Linked DNA regions of Homo sapiens. The protein of the gene in region 1 purifies or fractionates together with the protein of each later gene. This does not show direct contact. Each region holds a gene or a part of one and is shown in the gene's direction. Other genes may lie near its edges. The genes, in order: RPRD2 and SPTB.

Evidence for each region.
Region 2: the proteins of RPRD2 (region 1) and SPTB purify together in Homo sapiens (affinity purification with mass spectrometry; one large-scale study listed by BioGRID and IntAct). This does not show direct contact.

The regions. Positions count from the first base shown.
Region 1 is NC_000001.11:150,464,842-150,468,658, forward strand, and holds part of RPRD2 (regulation of nuclear pre-mRNA domain-containing protein 2), read left to right. Parts: intron 1-3,817.
Region 2 is NC_000014.9:64,792,591-64,796,407, reverse strand, and holds part of SPTB (spectrin beta chain, erythrocytic), read left to right. Parts: intron 1-768; coding exon 769-1,071; intron 1,072-1,790; coding exon 1,791-1,941; intron 1,942-2,540; coding exon 2,541-3,411; intron 3,412-3,817.

The DNA.
Region 1 (3,817 bases):
TCATTATTCTTTTTATTTATTTATTTATTTATTTATTTAAAATTTTTGAGATGGAGTCTCACTCTGTTGCCTAGTTGGTGTGCAGTGGAGTGCTCTCGGCTCACTACAACCTCTGCCTCCTGGTTCAAGTGATTCTTCTGCCTCAGCCTCCCTAGCAGCTGGGATTACAGGCCCACACCACCATGTCTGGCTAATTTTTGTATTTTTAGTAGAGATGGGGTTTCTCCATGTTGGCCAGGCTGGTCTCAAACTCCTGGCCTCCCAAAGTGCTGGGATTATAGGCATGAGCCACCATGCCTGGTGGTCATTATCCTTTTTTTTATTTTAGACAGAATTTCACTCTTGTCGCCCAGGCTGGAGTGCAGTGGCCCAATCTCAGCTCACTGCAACCTCAGCCTCCCAAGTAGCTAGGATTACAGGTGCCCACCACCACATCCAGCTAATTTTTGTATTTTTAGTAGAGACGGAGTTTTGCTATGTTGGCCAGGCTGGTCTCGAACTCCTGACCTCAGGCAGTCCACCCACCTCAGCCTCCCAAAGTGCTAGGATTACAGGCGTGAGCCACTGCGCCCCTCCTATTTTTTTTATATTTATCATCTATGAGCTGACATCTGAAGAATTATAAAATGTGAAAGCTGAAAGAGACTAAGTATTATCTAGTCTAATCCCTTACTTTTCAGGTAAGGAAACTAAGGCTCAGTAAGGTGAAAAGATCTGCTTATGGTCACATACCTATCTGTCTATTCAGTATGAGCCAAGACTGAAGGCCAGATTTCTTGACTGGAGTTCAGTATTCTTTCACCTACACCATGACACCCTAGGGGCTGCATTAGTCCCAGCTTTTAATACAGGTTTATATATGTTGAGTTTTATTAATTTCAGTGTTAACCAAAGCTGAAGACAGTAGGAAGGGTCCATTTATTATCAAAAAATATGGCCAGGTGCAGTTGCTCACGCCTGTAATCCCGGCACTTTGGGAGGCTGAGGCGGGCAGATCACCTAAGGTCAGCAGTTCAAGACCAGCCTGGCCAACCAGGTGAAATAACATCTCTACTAAAAATATGAAAATTAGCCAGGTGTGGTGACACACACCTGTAGTGTGCTGAGATCGCAGTAAGCCGGAATCACGCTACTGCACTCCAGCCTGGACGACAGAGCAAGACTCAGTCCAAAAAAAAAAAAAAAAAAAAAAATTTTTTTATGACGCTTCAAGAACATAGTGAAACCCTGTCTCTACAACGGAATTAAAAATTAGCGCCGGGCGCGGTGGCTCACGCCTGTAATCCCAGCACTTTGGGAGGCTGAGGCAGGCGGATCATGAGTTCAGGAGATCGATACCATCCTGGCTAACACAGTGAAACCCCGACTCTACTAAAAATACAAAAAATTAGCCGGGCGTGGTGGCGGGCACCTGTAGTCTTGGCTACTTGGAAGGCTGAGGCAGGAGAATGGTGTGAACCCAGGAGGTGGAGGTTGCAGTGAGCCAAGATTGCCCCACTACACTCCAGCCTGGGCAAAAGAGCAAGACTCTGTCTCAAAAAAAAAAAAAAAAAAAAAATTAGCTGGGCATAGTGGTGCATGCCTGTAGTTCCAGCTACTCAGGGGGCTAAGGCAGGAGGATCACTTGAGCCCAGGAGTTCAAGGCTGCAGTACGCTGTGGTCACCCCACTGTACTCCAACCTAAGTGATGAGACCCTGCCTCAAAAAAAAAAAAAAAAAAATTTCTGAGACATGAATATATCTTTTTTTGTCCTAATGTTTTATAGAGGCTTCATTATTTATTATTTTATTTATTATTTTATTAGAGTCTTAGATGTAGTATTTTTGTTTTCACCTACCTATAATCTCTCTCATTTGACCCTTTCTGTTCAGCTTTACTAATTATGTTTTGTGCATGACACTGCCTGTTTCTAACCTTTTTTCATAAATCTTTCCTACTCTCTACTCTCTTATGCTCCAGATACCAATGAAATCCTTTTTAAGTACCGTAGTATAATTATGAAATGAATTACAAATACCAGGGCAATATATTCAGTGTAGTGATTTACTCTATATCAGTAGTCTCAACCAAAGGCCTCCAGGGAGGACACTTGGCAATATTTGGAGACCTTTTTAGTTGTCTCAACTGGGGTAATGGTAGGGGTGCTACTGCCTCTAGTGAGTAGAGGCCAGGAGGATGCTCCTAAATATCCTACAATGTGTGAGACAGCCCCAACAATAAAGAATTATCTAGCCCAAAGTGTCAGTAGTGCTGAGGTTGAGAAACCCTGCTCTCTATCAAAGGAGTGGTGTAAAACAGTTTCCTAAACTGTTATGTAAGTGGATCATTCAAGCATATTATAGTGAACTTTGTCTGGAGGTGCAGAAGAATTTTGTTACACAGAACTAAATAGTATTAAGTAATAATCCACAGCCCCTATCTATTGGCATCAGCAATAAAGAATTGATGATGACTGCAGCACATGTTGTACTACTAATATCAGGGACAATTTGAGAGTTTGACATGTTTATGCTTTCTCCCTTTTTATTTTTATTTGTTTGTTTGTTTTTGAGACGGGGACTTGCTCTGTTGCCCAGGCTGGAGTGCAGTGGTGTGATCTCGGCTCACTGCAACCTCTGCCTCTCGGGTTCAAGTGATTCTCTTGCCTCAGCCTCTCGAGTAGCTGGTATTACAGGCTCACACCACCATGCCCGGCTAATTTTTGTATTTTTAGTAGACACGGGGTTTCGCCATGTTGGCCAGGCTGGTCTCGAACTCCTGACCTCACGTGATCCACCTGCCTCGACCTCCCAAAGTGCTGGGATTACAGGTGTGAACCACCGTGCCTGGCCGATGTGAAATTTCTGATGAGGCAAAATTTGAACAGAACTAGGTTCCTTATGGAATGTGGAATTCTCTTTGACTTTTAAAAGGATTGTATCTAGCAAGTTAAATAGATGTATTTCCTCGAAGACTGTTAATGAAATCCCAGAACTTTGTTCTGATTGTGTCATCCACAGCCCTAGGTATTGACAGATTTATAACACAAAAGAGAGACTTCAGGCCCGGTGTGGTGGGTCACACCTGTAATTCCAGCACTTTGGGGACGGGTGGATCACCTGAGGTCAGGAGTTCAAGACCAGCCTGGCCAACAGGGTAAACCTGTCTTTCCAAAAAAAAATACAAAAAAATTAGCTGGGCGTGGTGGCTCACAGCTGTAACCCCAACTACTTGGGAGGCTGAGGTAGGAGAATCGCTTGAACCCGGAAGGCAGAGGTTGCAGTGAGCCAGCCTGGGCGACGAGCAAAACTCTGTCTCAAAAAAAGAGAAACTTCAGTGGGCAAAGGAGCAGAGTATGACTTGTTATGATTAAAGAGCAAACTTTTGGCTGGGCGCAGTGGCTCATGCCTGTAATCCTAACACTTTGGGAGGCCACGATGGGAGGATCACTTGAGGCCAGGAGTTTGAGACCAGCCTGGTCAATATAGCAAAACCCCTATCTCTATTGTTTTTAAGAATTTTTAAAAATAATTAAAAAAAAAAAAGATTGGAGAACAGTAATATTTAGTGGTGAGAGACAATTTTACCTATTACCAGAAATCTGAGTAGTATATCTATCTTAAAAAGATGTTCTTTTGAAGAAGTTATCCCAAAATATCTGAAAAATATGCTGAAATATCTTCTAAAAATCATATTACATTATTATATATCACATTCTAGTGTTTGAGGACTTCTGGGTTTTGTGAGAACAGTGATTACTAAGAATTAAATCAGGCTGGGCATGGTGGCTCACGCCTGTAATCTCAGCACTTTGGGAGGCTGAAGTGGGACAATCAC
Region 2 (3,817 bases), on another chromosome or scaffold:
CATCTGGGGAGGAGCTCTCCAGGATTTATTAAATCTCATTTTTAGGAAAGAGCCTTGGAGTCTAGAACTGGCCGCTGAAGTTGTCTTATGTGGGCCTGTAGTGTCAACTACAGCTGGGGTTTCAGTTGATGTTAAATTGTGGTTCTTGGGGGATATGGTAAAATCACAGACTGCACCTTGTCTGTGTCAGGCATGCCTTTTGGACTCTGGTCTCTGGTGCTGTGACATAATTCTAGCTAAGAATTGACCCCAGGGCTGATTCTTCATCAGAGCATCTGTTCCCTCTCACTTAAAGCTTGGAATCAAATTAGATTCTGTCCAGAAAGGGGGCAACAAGTATTCTGAGAGCACTGGAGAGTGTATGCGCACCCCAGATAGCATGTGAATAAACCATCTGTTTGCTGGTGCATGGGTTTCCGAGTGAGAAGCAGCCCCTTCCTGCCCCAAATCCAACAGGTCCACTCGAGGCATGTGGGGAGTGCCAGCAGGCTGCCAAGGGGCTCCATTAGTAACACGCAGGCTGCATCTCCCACGCGGGTGGCACGGGGAGTAAAATCATGAACTTCTCTTAGAGTCTCTTGTGAGACATTAATTTTTGGAACTTGGGTCTGATAAGACAGGCTGCAAAAGTAAGGCAGAACTAGCTGCTTCTTGGGAATGTGCTTTCCCATCTAGCACTGGTTCTGAAGGGAGCTGCCCTGTCCCTGAGTTTGGGGATGAGCCCCTGGGTGTCTGACTGAGCTGCCTGTTTTTCTCCCGGTGGGGCAGGATAACTTTGGGTATGACCTGGCAGCTGTGGAGGCCGCCAAGAAGAAGCATGAGGCCATCGAGACCGACACGGCTGCCTACGAGGAGCGGGTGAGAGCCCTGGAGGACCTGGCTCAGGAGCTGGAGAAAGAGAACTACCATGACCAGAAGCGCATCACGGCCCGCAAGGACAATATACTGCGCCTATGGAGCTACCTGCAGGAGCTGCTGCAGTCCCGGCGCCAGAGGCTCGAGACCACCCTGGCACTGCAGAAGCTCTTCCAGGACATGCTGCACAGCATCGACTGGATGGATGAGATCAAGGTGGGCCCTGGGGGCCGCCCCCGCCATGCCCTGCAGTGCTCACCTTGGGTCTCAGTGGCCCTGCAGTTAGCATAGGCTTCCTTAGACACCTCCCAGCCAGTCATATCTCTGAGTCAAAATAGAGAAACTGAGGCAGCAAAGTGTCTAGCTGCACCTGCCTCTCTGCCTCTTGGTCCACTCTGCTCCAGCAGGTGATACCAGCCCAGGTCCATGGTACCCTGGTGACCGAGAAATCTTGGGTTTGTGGCAGCACCGGTGCCAACCTTCAGGGCCTTGAAGAGACAGACATTAATCAGGAACCTGGAGAATCAAGCTCTTAGTAATTACAATTTGACTCTGGTTAGAATCCAGACCTCCCAGCATGAGGGCAACCTCTCCTCTCTCTCTGCCGCAGTGGGTCTCAGCTGAGGACACACATCAGACTGCCCCTGGAGCTTTGTGAAAATACACATGGCCAGGCCCCAACCCTGAGACCGATGCAGTAGATGAGTGTGGGGCTTGAGCATCTGTAAGATGTTCTATGGATGATGCTGATGGGCACCCCCAGTAGGCACTCTCCCTCTGGAGCTTCTTCCATCCTCAGCAGCAGCCCTTTTCTGGCTGCATTTGGCTCACCCTTGCTCAGATTACTAGAGACATGCCCTTTGCAGGGGTCTCTTCTCCTAATGTGTAGGTCTCTTCACTTCTCCTCATTTCCTTTCTGCTGTTCTCTTTGCCAGGCTCACCTCTTGTCTGCCGAGTTTGGGAAGCACTTGTTGGAGGTTGAAGACCTGCTACAGAAGCACAAGTTGATGGAAGCTGACATCGCCATCCAAGGGGACAAAGTGAAGGCCATCACCGCAGCCACCCTGAAGTTCACCGAGGGGAAAGGTGAGACCAAGTCTGTCTCCCCTTTTGAGGCTTCCAATGCCAGAGCCTCACCTCTGGCCTAACAACCCAACTTGGATAAATCTCCTGGAACCAACTTTAAAGTTCTGTTACTTTCATCAAGTAATGGTCCAAGAAAGAAGCTTGAGGGACCAGCCAAATTCTCTAGAGAGCAGGCAACTGCTTCGGTAACCTATAATCACCAAGGAGGCACCCTCTGTCCTTCATTCTCCTTGCTAGTTCAAGTTATGGCTGAGACAATTTAGGTTTCCAGATTCTTGTTTTAAATAAGAGACCTCACTGCATCTTTCAAGAATGACCTTGAAATTTTTTTAATTAATTTAAAAATAATTTTATGTTGTACATTTCTATTAAGAACTAACCCCACTTTTTATCTTCCTTAACCCTGAAGTTCAGTGGGAAATAATTATAAAGAATCTGTCCACCCTCTGAGCAACTGGGACCCCCCTGCATCCAACCCCAAAGCCCCAGTGACATGGCAGCTTCAGGGTTGTGTAGTTCCAACCTAGCAGCTTATCTGAAGCGTGCCCATAAATGAAGCCCATCCCCCACTTTGTCCTCCTTCCCCCTATTTCTTCCAGGGTACCAGCCTTGTGACCCCCAGGTCATCCAGGACCGCATCAGCCACTTGGAGCAGTGCTTTGAGGAGCTGAGCAACATGGCAGCTGGGCGGAAGGCCCAACTGGAGCAGTCCAAACGACTCTGGAAGTTCTTCTGGGAGATGGATGAGGCTGAGAGCTGGATCAAGGAGAAGGAGCAGATCTATTCTTCCCTGGACTATGGCAAAGACCTGACCAGTGTGCTCATCTTACAGCGCAAGCACAAGGCCTTTGAGGATGAGCTCCGTGGGCTGGATGCTCACCTGGAGCAGATCTTCCAGGAGGCTCATGGCATGGTTGCGCGCAAGCAGTTTGGGCACCCGCAGATCGAGGCCCGCATAAAGGAGGTGTCGGCACAGTGGGACCAGCTGAAGGACCTGGCTGCCTTCTGCAAGAAGAACCTCCAGGATGCTGAGAACTTTTTCCAGTTCCAGGGCGATGCGGATGACCTGAAGGCTTGGCTGCAAGACGCCCACCGGCTGCTCTCTGGTGAAGATGTGGGGCAGGACGAAGGGGCCACGCGGGCCCTGGGGAAAAAGCACAAGGACTTCCTGGAGGAGCTGGAGGAGAGCCGTGGGGTGATGGAGCACCTGGAGCAGCAGGCCCAGGGATTCCCCGAAGAGTTTCGGGATTCCCCAGATGTGACCCATCGGCTGCAGGCCCTGCGGGAGCTCTACCAACAGGTGGTGGCCCAGGCGGACCTGCGTCAGCAGAGGCTGCAGGAAGCCCTGGACCTGTACACGGTGTTCGGGGAGACAGACGCCTGTGAGCTGTGGATGGGAGAGAAGGAGAAGTGGCTGGCCGAGATGGAAATGCCAGACACCCTGGAGGACCTGGAGGTCGTGCAGCACAGGTCAGAGTTAACTCATCTTTTCCTCACGTCCCTGTACCCAGGCCTGGGCACCATCTCCCACCTAGTTTGGTAATAGTCTCTGGATCAGCAAAGGTCTCTTTGAGAGGCCCTGGGATGTCCTTTGTTGCAAAGTCCTGGCATTAGGAGTCATAAGTTCTATTCTGGCTCTGTGGCCTGGGGTACTTCACCCTTTGGGGCCTTGTGTTCCTCAAACAAAGGGAATTTATCTAGTCCAGTTATTCAATTACTTTTCAGCAATAGCAGTCTTTGCTCAGATGAATTGTGTATGGAACCCCCAGGTCACACAGAGGAAAAATGGAGCTACTCTGGAGAAGGAGGTTGAGAGGCCAGGACCCTGCCAGCTCTAGCTTTCTGTGGCAGTCCTTAAGCCAGGAGACTCTGAGGG